4 linked regions of the Homo sapiens genome follow. The protein of the gene in region 4 purifies or fractionates together with the protein of the main gene of each other region. This does not show direct contact. Each region holds a gene or a part of one and is shown on either strand. Other genes may lie near its edges.

What was found. Proteins that work in one complex are often made in the same cells at the same time.
Region 1: the proteins of MYORG (region 4) and ABCF3 purify together in Homo sapiens (co-immunoprecipitation; one large-scale study listed by IntAct). This does not show direct contact.
Region 2: the proteins of MYORG (region 4) and RDH11 purify together in Homo sapiens (co-immunoprecipitation; one large-scale study listed by IntAct). This does not show direct contact.
Region 3: the proteins of MYORG (region 4) and CGRRF1 purify together in Homo sapiens (affinity purification with mass spectrometry; 2 studies listed by BioGRID and IntAct, with this or other methods). This does not show direct contact.

The regions. Positions count from the first base shown.
Region 1 is NC_000003.12:184,188,892-184,191,851, forward strand, and holds part of ABCF3 (ATP-binding cassette sub-family F member 3), read left to right. Parts: intron 1-37; coding exon 38-97; intron 98-196; coding exon 197-253; intron 254-363; coding exon 364-386; intron 387-496; coding exon 497-552; intron 553-665; coding exon 666-866; intron 867-963; coding exon 964-1,040; intron 1,041-2,107; coding exon 2,108-2,152; intron 2,153-2,231; coding exon 2,232-2,364; intron 2,365-2,960.
Region 2 is NC_000014.9:67,682,265-67,686,071, reverse strand, and holds part of RDH11 (retinol dehydrogenase 11), read left to right. Parts: intron 1-867; coding exon 868-1,057; intron 1,058-3,807. UniProt on the Homo sapiens protein: Retinol dehydrogenase with a clear preference for NADP. Displays high activity towards 9-cis, 11-cis and all-trans-retinol, and to a lesser extent on 13-cis-retinol.
Region 3 is NC_000014.9:54,519,599-54,523,405, forward strand, and holds part of CGRRF1 (cell growth regulator with RING finger domain protein 1), read left to right. Parts: intron 1-2,855; coding exon 2,856-2,995; intron 2,996-3,807. UniProt on the Homo sapiens protein: Able to inhibit growth in several cell lines.
Region 4 is NC_000009.12:34,366,899-34,370,398, reverse strand, and holds part of MYORG (myogenesis-regulating glycosidase), read left to right. Parts: 3' UTR 1-3,500.

The DNA.
Region 1 (2,960 bases), on a different chromosome or scaffold from region 4:
CTGTTCCAACTGAGTTCTTCGATTTCTTCTCTACTAGGGCATCAGTCATTCTCGCTGGGCTTGGCTTTACCCCTAAAATGCAGCAGCAGCCCACCCGGTGAGTGACCCTTGCCATTCTTGGCTTTGAACCCTGTTGTCTCAGCCCCTTCCTGCCCTGATGAACACCCACCCATAATGTGACTCCATCATTCTTTAGGGAGTTCTCAGGTGGCTGGAGGATGAGGCTGGCCCTGGCCCGGGCCCTCTTTGCTAGGTGAGTCTCCTGGGCCAGTGTATGAAGCCCTATGGAAGATTGGTCTTAGCTCTTGGGAGGTGGCATGAGTTGCTGACCTAAAACCTCAGGCCATGTATTGTTTTTCATAGGCCAGATCTTCTGCTGTTAGATGGTGAGTTTGAAATGGGGCACCCTGACTTTAGGATGGGCAGGGGTGGTAGCATCCAAGTTCCTAGTTCTCCAGCCCTTCAATCCCAAGTGTGTGCTCCCCTGCTTCTCCAGAACCTACAAACATGCTGGATGTCAGGGCCATCCTGTGGCTGGAGAATTACCTGCAGGTGAGTGCCTGTGGGTGCTGGAGTGTGTTGGGGAAAGGCGGCCTCCAAGATACCTGGGGGCCTGAGAACTGACTGCCCTCCCAAACCGGGCCTGCTGTCCTGTGACCCCTCAGACGTGGCCCTCCACCATCCTAGTCGTCTCCCACGACCGCAACTTCTTGAATGCCATCGCCACAGACATCATCCACCTGCACAGCCAGCGGCTAGATGGTTACCGGGGAGACTTTGAGACCTTCATCAAGAGTAAGCAGGAGCGGCTGCTCAACCAGCAGCGTGAATATGAGGCGCAGCAGCAGTATCGCCAGCACATCCAGGTGTGGGGCCTGGCAGGGCTGGGGGTCCCATCCCAGGGGTTCCAGAGTGGGGGATAGTGGGGGAATTTGACCAATGCCTACACTCCTCCACCTGCAGGTTTTCATTGACCGGTTTCGCTACAATGCCAACAGGGCCTCTCAAGTGCAGAGTAAACTCAAGATGCTGGAGAAGCTGTGAGTACAGCATCCTTGGCCAGGGCCTGACTCCTGTTCTCTTCGTCTCCTTCCGCATTTGCACGCCACCCTTGCCCTACCATTCTAGGTCTCCCCTTCGCTAGAAGCCAACTGTGACTTCCTCCTCTGCTGGGAAGCAGAGTATTCCACACTGTTCTTGGAGGGCTAATCTTGACTAGCACATGGCAACCACTAATTTACTTTCTGTTTCTGCTTCTACGTATCTGCTTATTCTGGGCATTTCATATAAATGGAATCATACAATATGACCTTTGTGCCTGGTGTCTTTTACCTGGCGTCATGTGTGAGGCTCATCCATATTGTAGCGTGCGTCAGAGCTTCATTTCTTTTCGTGGCTGGATAATATTCTGTTGTGTGGATATACAGCATTTTGTTTATTGAGTCATGAGGGGCCATTTGGGTTGTTTCCATTTTGGTTATTATGAATAATGTTGCTGTGAACATTGGTGTACAAATTTTTGTGTGGACATATGTTTTCAGCTTGCTTGGGTGTATACCTAGGCGCAGAATTGCTGGGTTACCTGGTAATTCCAAATTAATGTTTTGAGGAACTGTCAAACTGTTTTCTAAAGCAACAACATCATTTTACATTCCTACCAACAAGGGATGAGAGTTCCAATTTCTCCATGTCTTTGGCAGCACTGTTATTGACTTTTTTTTTTTTAGTTTTAGCCATCCTAGTGGCTGTGAAGTGATAGCTCATTGTGGTTTTGATTTGCATTGCCTTAATAACTAATGATAATGTGCATTGGGAGTTTAATTTTGAAGTGCCCTTTCTATAAGTGCTGGCAGGAAGCTTAAAATCATAAAGCTTAGATGTTTGCGACGTGGAAACATATCACAATATAGTAACTGGGGATAAAAAGTCACAAAAAGCCTAATTCTATTTTTTAGCATACAGTAAATGAGAAGAATGGACTCTAAAGTAATGATACCTGAGTGGTAGGAGTACAAGCCCTTTCTAAGTTTTCTCTGAACATATATTACTCGTGTAGGAAGTTATTTTTTTAAGTAATAAATCTAGTCTACCTCATCTCTTCTCCCAGGCCTGAGCTGAAGCCTGTGGACAAGGAATCAGAGGTCGTAATGAAGTAAGTGCTGGGCCAGTGGGGCTGGTGGGGAATTGCTTGCTTCCAGCTGCCCCCACATCCTCACCCCTACCTCCTGCAGGTTCCCTGATGGGTTTGAGAAGTTCTCGCCGCCAATTCTGCAGCTAGATGAGGTGGATTTCTACTACGATCCGAAGCACGTCATCTTCAGTCGCCTCTCTGTGTCTGCTGATCTCGAGTCTCGCATCTGTGTGGTAAGGCTGCTGTTTCTCTGTGCTGCGAGCTGGGACTCTCCTGTCTAAGTGTGTGGTGTGGATTGGCCCAGATCCTCAGGCTGTAAAGGGACGAGGTCTGTGGAACAGGAGTGAGGGCCCGGGCTAAGGATTTTGCAGGACTTACACTAGCCCTGTCCTCTGGCCGCACAGCGCTGCTCTTCAGGGAGGAAGAGCCTAGTGTATAGTGTTTTAAAAATACTTAAAAATACTTAAAGCAGTGCTTTACCTTATTGGTCTCGGTTCTGAGTTTTCTAAACCTGGAGACATTGAGGAGAGAGCATGGGCTTCAGGGTCAGACTTCGGATCTTGACTATGCCATTTCCTAGCTTGGTTACCAAGCAGCTTCCTAACTCTTAAGATGGCGCTGACATCTACCTCACTTGGTTCTTGGGAAAAGTAAGTCCCCAGCACTTAGCAAATACTCAAGTATTGCTCACCTTAGTATATGCATTTTTCTGTAGAGTTAGAGTTCCTTTTTTTTTTTTTTCGGAGACAGAGTCCTGCCCTGTTGCCCCGGCTGGAGTGCAATGGCACAATCTTGGCTCACCGCAGCTTTCGCCTCCCGGGTTCAAACA
Region 2 (3,807 bases), on a different chromosome or scaffold from region 4:
GAATTATGGAGAGGGAGTCTGGTGAGCCACGAGAACTCCAACATTTAATGTTTGTGTAGAAGATGATGAACTGGTCCAGAAAACTGAGACAGAGCAGCCAGAAAGGTTAGGAAAACCAGAAGTGGCATAGGCTTATGGAAGCCAGTGAAAAAGAAGACTTTAAGAAGGGGATGGGCGCCTGTAATCCCAGCACTTTGGGAGGCCGAGGTGGGCAGATCACTTGAAGTCAGGAGTTCAAGACCAGTCTGGCCAACATGATGAAATCCCGTCTCCACTAAAAATACAAAAATTAGCCTGGTGTGGTGGCGCACCCCTGTAGTCCCAGCTACTTGGGAGGCTGAGGCAGGAGAATCGCTTGAACCTGGAAGGCAGTGGCAGAAGGAAGATCATGCCACTGCACTCCAGCCTGGGCAACACAGCAAGCCTGTCTCAAAAAAATGAAGGGGATGGGGTGGGTGTGGTGGCTCATGCCTGTAATCCTAATACTTTGGGAGGCCAAGGTGGGAAGATTGTTTGATGCCAGGAGTTCAAGACCAGCCTGGTCAACATAGGGAGACCCCATCTCTAAAAAAGAAGGGGGTGGTCAACGATGTTAAGTGCTGCTGAGAGGATGAGTCTTGGCTCTGCTGATTCCTGACTTGAGTTTCCAGTCAGAAATACACAGAGGTCCTTAGCACTGTCTACTCTAGAGCCTTCTTAGATCTGTGAGATGGAAGTATAAATTACTGTGAGCAGTACTTCTGATGTCACCATGGGCAAAAGAGTCCATATGTGAAGGTCACATGCTTATTTACATCCTTTTCTGTTTTGGGCTATTCTGCAAAATCAAGTCCTGTCTTACCCTCTCTTCATGCCACCCCCAACCAGGCTCTGGCGTTACGACGTATTCTGTACACCCTGGCACAGTCCAATCTGAACTGGTTCGGCACTCATCTTTCATGAGATGGATGTGGTGGCTTTTCTCCTTTTTCATCAAGACTCCTCAGCAGGGAGCCCAGACCAGCCTGCACTGTGCCTTAACAGAAGGTCTTGAGATTCTAAGTGGGAATCATTTCAGGTATGAATGTTATCTCTTTTTGCAGATGAGATTTATTGCTCAAAGGAGATAATTTGGGTTTGTCTGGGTATACCCTTTTTTAAAAGTACATTGTCTCATATAGCTTTTGTCTTTTAACTCTAGAGTTTTTACCTTTTAGTAGGGGAATTTGACTCTCTTTTGTAATAACTGCTACATTTGATTTTATGCCATCTTTTATACTGATAATTATGCATTCTGTTTGTTTTCTTCCTGTCTTTGTTATGTCAGTCCAGTTTTCTTTATTCTTTTTTGGATTCCTAATTCTATTGTTTTACATTAAAAAGAATTTAAAAAGAATTTGAGGCCAGGCGCAGTGGCTTACGCCTGTAATCTCAGCACTTTGGGAGGCCAAGGTGGGCAGATCACCTAAGGTCAGGTGAAACTCCGCCTCAAAAAAAAAAAAAAAGAATTTGAATCTGCATTTCTCTATTGTCCTCAGGATTGAAATACTATGGACTCCCCTCTCAAATAAGCGAAGACATTTAAAATGATTTAAATGTAGAGAATTTTGAATATAACACAGGGTTAGATAAAATAGTGCACTGAGCCTGCATATAATGGAGCCTCAGCTACCATTAACCCATGGCCAATTCTGCCCTATCCCCATTCTCTACCCCTTTCCATATTTTTCTTCTCCCATATTATTTTGAAGCAAATCCCAGGCATCACATAAGATCAAAATTTTAACATGTTTTTACCTCTACTTCAGGTTATTGTTGAAATGACCTGAAATTTTAAGGAAGTAGCTGAAAATAGCATTAAGATTGGAAAGAAAGGCAGACAGATTATGAGAGGCCTATAATGCCAGCCTTGTGGAGGAGCCCCAGAGTTGTTTCAGTAGACAGACAAAATCTGGTCTGTGCTTTAGCAACTTTGTTTCATGAATGAATAATTAACCTAGTGAGAGAGAGAGTTTCAGAAAGTTGTAATGAAAGGAATGGTAATGTGAAAGAGGCCCTGAAGCAGCAGAATTTTTATCACTGGATGATTAATTAAATGAGGGGATGAGGGAGGCTTTGCTAACCTGAATTTCAAGCCTGAATGAGGTTGATGATGACATTAACTAAGACAGCAGACATGGAAAAGTAATGTGTGGAACTTAGGGTTCTTGGATTCCAAAGCAGTTGAAAGGGACTTTGTCTAGCTTAAGCAAGAAGGAAATTTATTAAAATATTAGTAGGGAGAGGAGGGACCCCTAGGTTGAAAGGGAAGACTGAAGAGCCAGGCTAAGAAGTGTCAGAGTGGCAGTCAGCCAGCCGGGGCATTGCTGCTAGAGTGAGCGAATGCCAGCTATCTTTAGTGTTTAGGTTGTATTGCTTATCATCCATTCTCTAGGGAGGAAGCATTGGATCTCCTTCCTCCTATCCCTTCATTTTTACTCTTTTGATTAGAGGCAAACAGGGACTTTATTAATGCTCTCTTCAAACTATATTGAGGGGAAAAGGTGATTCTGCAGAAGGAAATCAGGTTGCTATTGCCGAAACAAAGTAGAATGTTCAGCCAAAGAGTAACAGTTGTCCACTGTGTAACAAACCTGGCTCTGTACATGTTGCATGTGTGTTATCTATAAGGCATGCAAGTAGAAATGTATAGCAGATAGTTGGAAATGTGGTTCTGAAGTATAAGAAGATAGATTTATATAGTATACTGGATTGATTTTCCAAGAGTGACTGGATTCTTCTTCCCTAGAGATTTTAAGAAAAAAAAAAATAACCCTTTATCTTGGTTTTGACTGAGTGGTTTAAAGAAAGTCAGCTCTAAATCCATAACTTACTATTGGATTGACTTTTGAAGAGCCTTTCCTGTGCTATGGATTCTTAATTCATTTTGAAGATCCAACAGCAGCCGTGTAGACCACCATCAAGAAATGAACATAAAAGTCTTTTGATTGAAGCCTTAAGATTTTTGCACTGGCTCTTCTTTCTGCCTGCAACCACTAGTCTGCTTTATGTCTCTAAGAATTTGCCTTTACTGGACATTTCATATAAATGGAATCATATGGTATGTGGCCTTTTGTGACTGACTTCTTTTACTCAGCTTAATGTTATCAAGGGTCATCCATGCTAAAGCATGTGTCAGTACTTCATTTCTTTTTATTGCTGGATAACATTTCATTGTATAGATTTGCCACATCTTATTTATTCATTCATCAGGTGATGGGCATTTGGGTTTGCACTTTTTAGCTATTTGAATAATACTGCTGTGACCATTTGTGTAGAAATTTTTGTGTGGACATTTCTCTTGGGTACATGGAAGTGGAATTTCTGGGTTATATGGTAACTGTGTTTAACTGCTGAGGAACTGCCAAACTTTTCCAAAATGACTGCCCCATTTTACATTCCCACCAGCAGTCTATGAGTATTCTAATTTCTTCACATCCTCAGCAACACTTGTTATTGTCTCTCCTTTTGAGTTTAGCCATCCTAGTGAGTATGAAGGAATATCTTGTTTTTATTTTCATTTCATTTTCCTACTAATGATGTTGAACATTCTTTCATGCGCTTTTTGGTTCATTTGTTTCTTTGTTGGGGAAATGTCTATCAAGTCCTTTGCCCATTTTTAAGTTGGATAATTGTCTTTTTATTGTTGAGTTACAAGAGTTCTTAATAGTCTAGATGCGAGTTCCTTGTCAGATATATAATTTGCAAATATTCTCTCATTCTGTGGGTTGTCTTTTAACTTTCTTAATGGTATCTTTTGAAATGTAAAACTTAAATTTTGATGAAGTC
Region 3 (3,807 bases), on a different chromosome or scaffold from region 4:
AATCCAGCTCCTGGTTCCAAGTTATAAACCTGGCTCTGGCCCTTGTCTGGAGAAGACAGCCTATGCTGGTCTCCTTAGTACATGAAGGCTTGGTTGCCACTGTCTGCTGCCAGACTGAGAACCATGAAACCATGGCATAGCCTTACTCATTACTTTGTTTCTTTGCTTTTTTTGGATCCATAAAGGTATTTGTTCCCAGCATTTTATTATAAAAATTTTCAAACATACAGAATACTAGAAAGAATTACACAGTGAACACACATCTGCCCATCACTTAGATTCTACAATCAGCATTTTACTGTAATTTCTCTATTACATATCTGTCCACATTAATCCACTCTTTTATCCATACATTGGTCTATCTTATTTCACGATGCCCTTCAAAGTGAGTTGTACTCTTCACCTGTAAGTTCTAAAACATTACATATTACTGATTAGAGTTCAGTGTTTGTTTTCGTTTATAGTTTTTTGAAGTAACATTTACATATAAGATACACAAATCTTATTTTTTATTTATTTATTTTTTTTGAGATGGAGTCTTGCTCTGTCGCTCAGGCTGGAGTGCAATGGCGCGATCTTGGCTCACTGCAAGCTCAGACTCCCAGGTTCACGCCATTCTCCTGCTTCAGCCTCCCGAGTAGCTGGGACTGCAGGCGCCCACCACCACGCCTGGCTAATTTGTGTGTGTGTGTGTATGTGTGTGTGTGTGTATTTTTAGTAGAGACGGGATTTCACTGTGTTAATCAGGACGGTCTCGATCTCCTGGCCTCATGATCCATCCGCCTCGGCCTCCCAAAGTGCTGGGATTACAGGTGTGAGCCACCGCACCCGGCCAAGATGTACAAATCTTAAGTGTACCATTTACCAAGTGTTATCAAACACATCATCTATACAGCTTAAGCCTCTGTCAAGATACTGAACGTTACCGTCAATTTTCTTATGCTCTTTCCCAGTCAGTCCTACTCCTGTACTTCCGGAAGCAACCATTGTTCTCATTTTTATTTCTACCATAAATTTGTTGTGCCTGCTCTAGAATTTTATATTAGAGAAGGATACAGCATTTATTCTTTTGTGTAAGGCTTCTTTTGCATAGCACGATGTTTCTGAAATTTATCCATTTGATTGTAGTAATAAGTTGTTCCTTTTCACTGCTGAATACTTCTATTCTTTTCTTTAAATATACCACAGTTTGTTTACTCATTTCAGCGGAGTCTTTCTTTTTTCTTAAAGCATATGGGACTCAGGTATCTGTGGGGTCTTTTTAATTTTTCTTTTTCTTTTTTATCTATCACTGATATGTATTTGGAGAGAAGGGAGTGCATCAAATAGGCTCCTAACTGTGCCGTCTTTAACTAAAATTTCCTAGTTTAACTGGTGTGTATTAATTTTAGATTATTTTATGTAAATTGAGTAAAGTAGCTGTTTTTTAATTTTATTGGGAATTGAATTTAGCCCCTTTCATTTTCCTTTTAATTCTGTTCCATGGGCATTGTCAGAGTTTACATTTTTACATGAAATTTAAAAGTAGAAGATATATAAATGAAGAGCTATAGTTGGTGTTTTAAAAGTTCCATTGTCCTGGCTGGGTATGGTGGCTCACGCCTGTAATCCCAGCACTTTGGGAGGCTGAGGTGGGCGGATCACCTAAGGTCAGGAGTTCGAGACCAGCCTGGTCAATATGGTGAAACCCCGTCTCTACTAAAAATACAAAAATTACCTGGGCATGGTGGCACATGCCTGTAATCTCAGCTACTTGGGAGGCTGAGGCAGGAGAATTGCTTTAACCCGGGAGGCAGAGGTTATAGTGAGCCAAGATCACGCCATTGCACTCCAGCCTGGGCAACAAGAATGAAACTCCATCTCAAAAAAAAAAAAAGTTCCGTTGTCCCATAAATCATATTAGTCTGCCTCTTTTTTCTTTTGAGAGACGAAATCTTGCTCTGTTGCCCAGGCTGGAGTCCAGTGGCACGATCTCGGCTCACTGCAACCTCTGCCTTCCGGGTTCAAGCCAGTCTCCTGCCTCAGCTTCCCAAGTAGCTGGGTCTACAGGTCCACGCCACCATGCCCAGCTAATTTTTGTATTTTTATTAATGACAGGGTTTCACTATGTTTTGGCCAGGCTGGTCTCGAACTCCTGACCTCAAGTGATCCTCCCACCTTGGCCTCCCAAAGTGCTGGGATTACAGGCATGAGCCACCACACCCGGCCAATAGTCTGCCTCTTGAATATATATTTCTTTTTCACATTTAAAAAAATTCAATAAGTTCATCATGTGTTTGCTGTTAAATTAAGTATAATTTATCTATAATCTCCATACTCCTTTGGTGTTATCAACAGTATTAACAATAGAACTCTTTGTTTTCAAGAATGTGTTGATTCAGCCAGCTGAACAATACCTAGTCCTTCCTTGATATCTGAGGGGGATTGATTCTAGGATACCCACCCCCCATATTCTAGGATGCTTAAGTCCCTTATATAACATTACATAGTATTTGCATATAACCTACACACGTCCTTCTGTACACTTCAAATTATCTCTAGATTACTTACACCTAATGTAAATGCTGTGTAAACAGTTGTTATACTGTATTGGTTTTGAATTTGTAGTATTTTTTATTGTTATTTTTTATTCTTCCCCCTCGTCCCCAAATATTTTTGATGTGCACTTGGTTCATACAGAGGGCCAACTGTTTTGCAGTTCTGTGGGATCTCTAAAATAACGTAAATTGAGAAATTTAACCTCTTTCTGACACTTAATGCTAAAAGGAATCGCTAATGAAGCACAACAGATTTTACACATAACATAAAGTTTCAACATTTGTTAAAATAATATTTTATTTTTTACCTTTTTTTAGGTTTGGTTGGGATGTTCCAGTAATTCTGAGAAATTCAGAAGAGACCCAGTTCAGCACAAGAGTTTTCAAAAAGCAAATGAGACAAGTCAAGAATCCTTTTGGCTTAGAGATCACTAATCCATCTTCAGCTTCAATTACAAGTTGGTGGCTGTTTTCCAAAGATTTTCTCTCATTGTTTGCCCTCTTTTTTTAGCCCTTTTATTTTCTTTCTCTATTTCTTTCCCTTCATTAGACTTTTAACAAACATTTGTTGGGCAACTATGTTGTTCCAGGTGCTGTACTGTATATGACAGATACAAAGATTAAGAAGTTACAAACTTTACTCCTGAAGAATTTATCACCTAGTAAACAGAGGTAGATGTGTATACAAAGGAGTAGAATGAAGTATTACAGGTGTTAATAGTGAAGTCTCTTAGGACACTATGCCATTTTTATTGGTCTGTAGTAAAGTGAGAAATGATGTGTTATGTCTAAATACAGTTAACGTAAGGTTGCTAACCTTTTGAGGAACAATTGCCTTTTTATTTTTTTTGAGACAGATTCTTACTCTGTCATCCAGGCTGGAGTGCAATGGCACAATCTCGGCTCACTACAGCCTCCACCTCCCGGGTTCAAGCGATTCTCCTGCCTCAGCCTCCCAAGTCACTGAGATTACAGGCATGCACCACCACACCTGGCTAATTTTTGTTTTTTTAGTAGAGACAGTGTTTCACCATGTTGACCAGGCTGGTCTCAAACTCCTGACCTCAGATGATCCACCCACCTCAGCCTCCCAAAGTGCTGGGATTACAGGTGTGAGCCACTGCGCGCGGCCAGAATGATTGTCATTTAATCTGAAACTATGGTATTTTGGTATAAATTATTTTGATATAACATGTTCTTTTGTAGATGGTAGGTAATAGATGGCAGTTGTTTGCTTTTGTACTTGCTTGGAAAAATAAGTTGTCTGCAG
Region 4 (3,500 bases):
TGGGGACTTGATCTTATTTAAGGTCTCCAAATAGCCCCCACCACACTTAGAACGTGTGTTTTCTTAGTGTTAGAAGCCAGGCCCTGAGTCCCCAGCACTCACCTGAACTGTGGCTGATTTGGTCCCAGTCCAGCTGGGGAGGTGTTTGGCTGACAAGGAGGCAAGAGATCCCCTCCCAGGGAACAGGAGGACTGGGCTTAGCACAGAGCCATCATCATGTTCCCAATTTGTGAAGAGACTCCTAACACTGCACTAACCCATTTGTGTACATACATGGGCTCAGCCCTGGGCCAAATGTGCCTGATGGGAACAGACTTGCAGGGCCATGCAGGCCAGACTTCGTGCCTTAACTGAAGAGTGTGCGTGTGTGTGTGTGAGAGAGAGAGAGAGAGAGAAACACGCATCATGGGTCCCTGATCTATGAAATGAACACAACCTCTCTGAGGCTGGATGATCTGGAGGAAGGGGGCATGGAGCAAATTTGAGGCTCTGATTGCTGAGCCAGCCTCCTCCCAGGCGGTTTCCCCAGGACTCTCGTAGGAAATAAATAGCCCTTTCAAGATTCCTCAGCTGCCTCACCCCCTGCACATGTGCCTGGGGTGTGGCCTAGAAGGGAGTGATGTTCTTACTCTGGTGGTCTGTGCTTCTGAACACAGGCTACATGCACACACTGACAACTACCAATAAACAGACAGGGGAAGGTCTTTCATCTCAGCCATTTTCTCTTCCCCCCGCCCCCCCTTAGATGGAGTCTTGCTCTGTCACCCAGGTTGGAGTGCAGTGGCACAATCAGCTCACTGCAACCCCTCCTCCTAGGTTCAAGCGATTGAGTAGCTGAGATTACAGGCATGCATCACTATGCCTGGCTTTTTGTATTTTTTAGTAGAGATGGGGTTTACCATGTTGGCCAGGCTAGTCTCAAACTCCTGACCTAGTGATGCACCCACCTTGGCCTCCCAAAGTGTTGGGATTACAGGCATGAGCCACCACGCCAGCCATTTTCTCTTTCTAAGAAGAGCAACCTCAGCCGGAGTGAGTTTTTTCTGACTTTGCAGCTGAGTCTGGAGAAAAGTGGCATGCCAGAGCGGGTCGGTGGGAAACAGGGTGAACTTTAGCTTCCATCAACAGCTCTGGTAGCAAAACCAGTCCCCTACCCCCTAGAGAATGCATCCGTTTCCCCACCTGATATGGTTTGGCTGTGTCCCCACCTAAAACTCATCTTGAATTGTAGCTCCCATAATTGCCATGTGTTGTGGGAAGGACCCAGTGGGAGATAATTGAAATATGGGGGCAGTTTCCGCCATACTGTTCTGGTGATAGTGAATAGATCTCATGAGAGCTGATGATTTTATAAGAGGTTTCCCCTTTTGCTTAGTTCTCATTCTCTCTTGCCTGCCGCCATGTAAGACGTGCCTTTCTGTCATGCTTGTGAGGCCTCCCCAGCCACGTGGAGCTGTGAGTTCATTAAACCTCTTTTTCTTTATAAATTACCCAGTCTTGGTTATGTCTTTATCAGCACTGTGAAAATGAACCTATACAGTAAATTGGTACCAGTAGAGTGGGGCGCTGCTGTAAATACCCAAAAATGTGGAAGCAACTTTGGAACTGGGTAACAGGCAGAGGTTGGAACAGTTTGGAGGGATCAGAAGACAGGAAAATGTGGGAAAGTTTGGGACTTCCTAGAGACTTGTTAAATGGCTTTGACCAAAATGCTGATAATGATTGGGACATGAAATCCAGGCTGAGTTGGTCTCAGATAGCGATGAGGAACTTGTTTGGTACTGGAGTAAAGGTGACTCTTGCTATATTTTAGCAAAGAGACTGGCTGCATTTTGCCCCTGCCCTAGAGATTTGTGGAACTTTGAACTCGAGGGAGATGATTTAGGGTATCTGGCAGAAGAAATTTCTAAGCAGCAAAGCATTCATGAGGTGACTTGGGTGCTGTTAAAAGCATTCAGTTTTAAAAGGGAAACAGACTATAAAAGTTTGGAAAATTTGCAGCCTGATGATGAGATAGAAAAGAAAAACCCATTTTCTGAGGATAAATTCAAGCCCCCTGCAGAAATTTGCATAAGTAACAAGGAGCCAAATGTTAATCACTAAGACATGGGGAAAATGTCTGCAGGGCATGTCAGAGACCTTTGCAGCAGTGCCTCCCATCACAGGCCTGGAGGCCTAGGAGGGAAAAAATGGTTTTGTGGGCCAGGCCCAAGGTCCCCTTGCTGTGTGCAGCCCAGGGACTTGGTACCATGCATCCCAGCTGCTCTAGTCATGGCTAAAAGGGGCCAAGATACAGCTCAGGCCTTGGCTTCAGAGGGTGCAAGCCCCAAGTCTTGGCATCTTCCACGTAGTGTTGAGCCTGCAGGTGCACAGAAGTCAAGAACTGAGGTTTGGGAACCTCTGCCTAGATTTCAGAGAATGTATGGAAATGCATGTATGTCCAGGCAGAAGTTTGCTACAGGAGTGAGGCCCTCATGGAGAACCTCTGTTAAGGCAATGTGGAAGGGGAAGCCCCCACACAGAGACCCCACTGGGACACTGCCTAGTAGAGCTGTCAGAAGAAGGCCACCGTCCTCCAGACATCAGAATGGTATATCCACTGACAGCTTGCACCATGCACCTGGAAAAGCCACAGACACTCAACGCCAGCCTGTAAAAGCAACCGAGAAGTAGGCTGTACCCTGCAATGCCATAGGGGTGGAGCTGCCCAAGACCATGGGAACCCACCTCCTGCATCAGTGTGACCTGGATGTGAGACATGGAGTCAAAGGAGACCATTTTGGAGCTTTAAGATTTAACTGCCCTGCTGGATTTCAGACTTGCATGGGGCCTTTAGCCACTTCGTTTTGGCCAACTTCTCCCACTTGAAATGGGTGTATTTAGCCAATGCCTGTACCTCCGTTGTATCTAGGAAGTAACTAACTAGCCTTTGATTTTACAGGCTCATAGGTGGAAGGGACTTGCCTTGTTTCAGATGAGACTTTGGAGTATGGACTTTTGAGTTAATGCTGAAATGAGTTAAGACTTTGGGGGACTGTTGGGAAGGCATGATTGATTTTTAAATGAGAGGACATGAGATTTGGGAGGGGCCAGGGAGAGAATGATATGGTTTGGCTGTGTCCCCATCCAAATATCACCTTAAATTGTAGCTCCCATAATTGTGGGAGGGACCTGGTGGGAGATAATTGAATCATAGGGGCAGTTTCTCCCATACTGTTCTGGTGGTAGTGAATAAGTCTCACGAGATCTGATGGTTTAATAAGGGGTTTCCCCTTTTGCTTGGCTCTCATTCTCTCTTGTCTGCTGCCATGTAAGATGTGCCTTTTGCCTTCCACCATGATTGTGAGGCCTCCCAGCCACATGGAACTGTGAGTTCATTAAACCTCTTTTTCTTCATAAATTACCCAGTCTCGGGTATGTCTTTATCAGCAGTGTGAAAACAGACTAATACACCACTCCTCTACCTTCTTTATTTTCTCAGTGTGGAAAATGCCTGATGA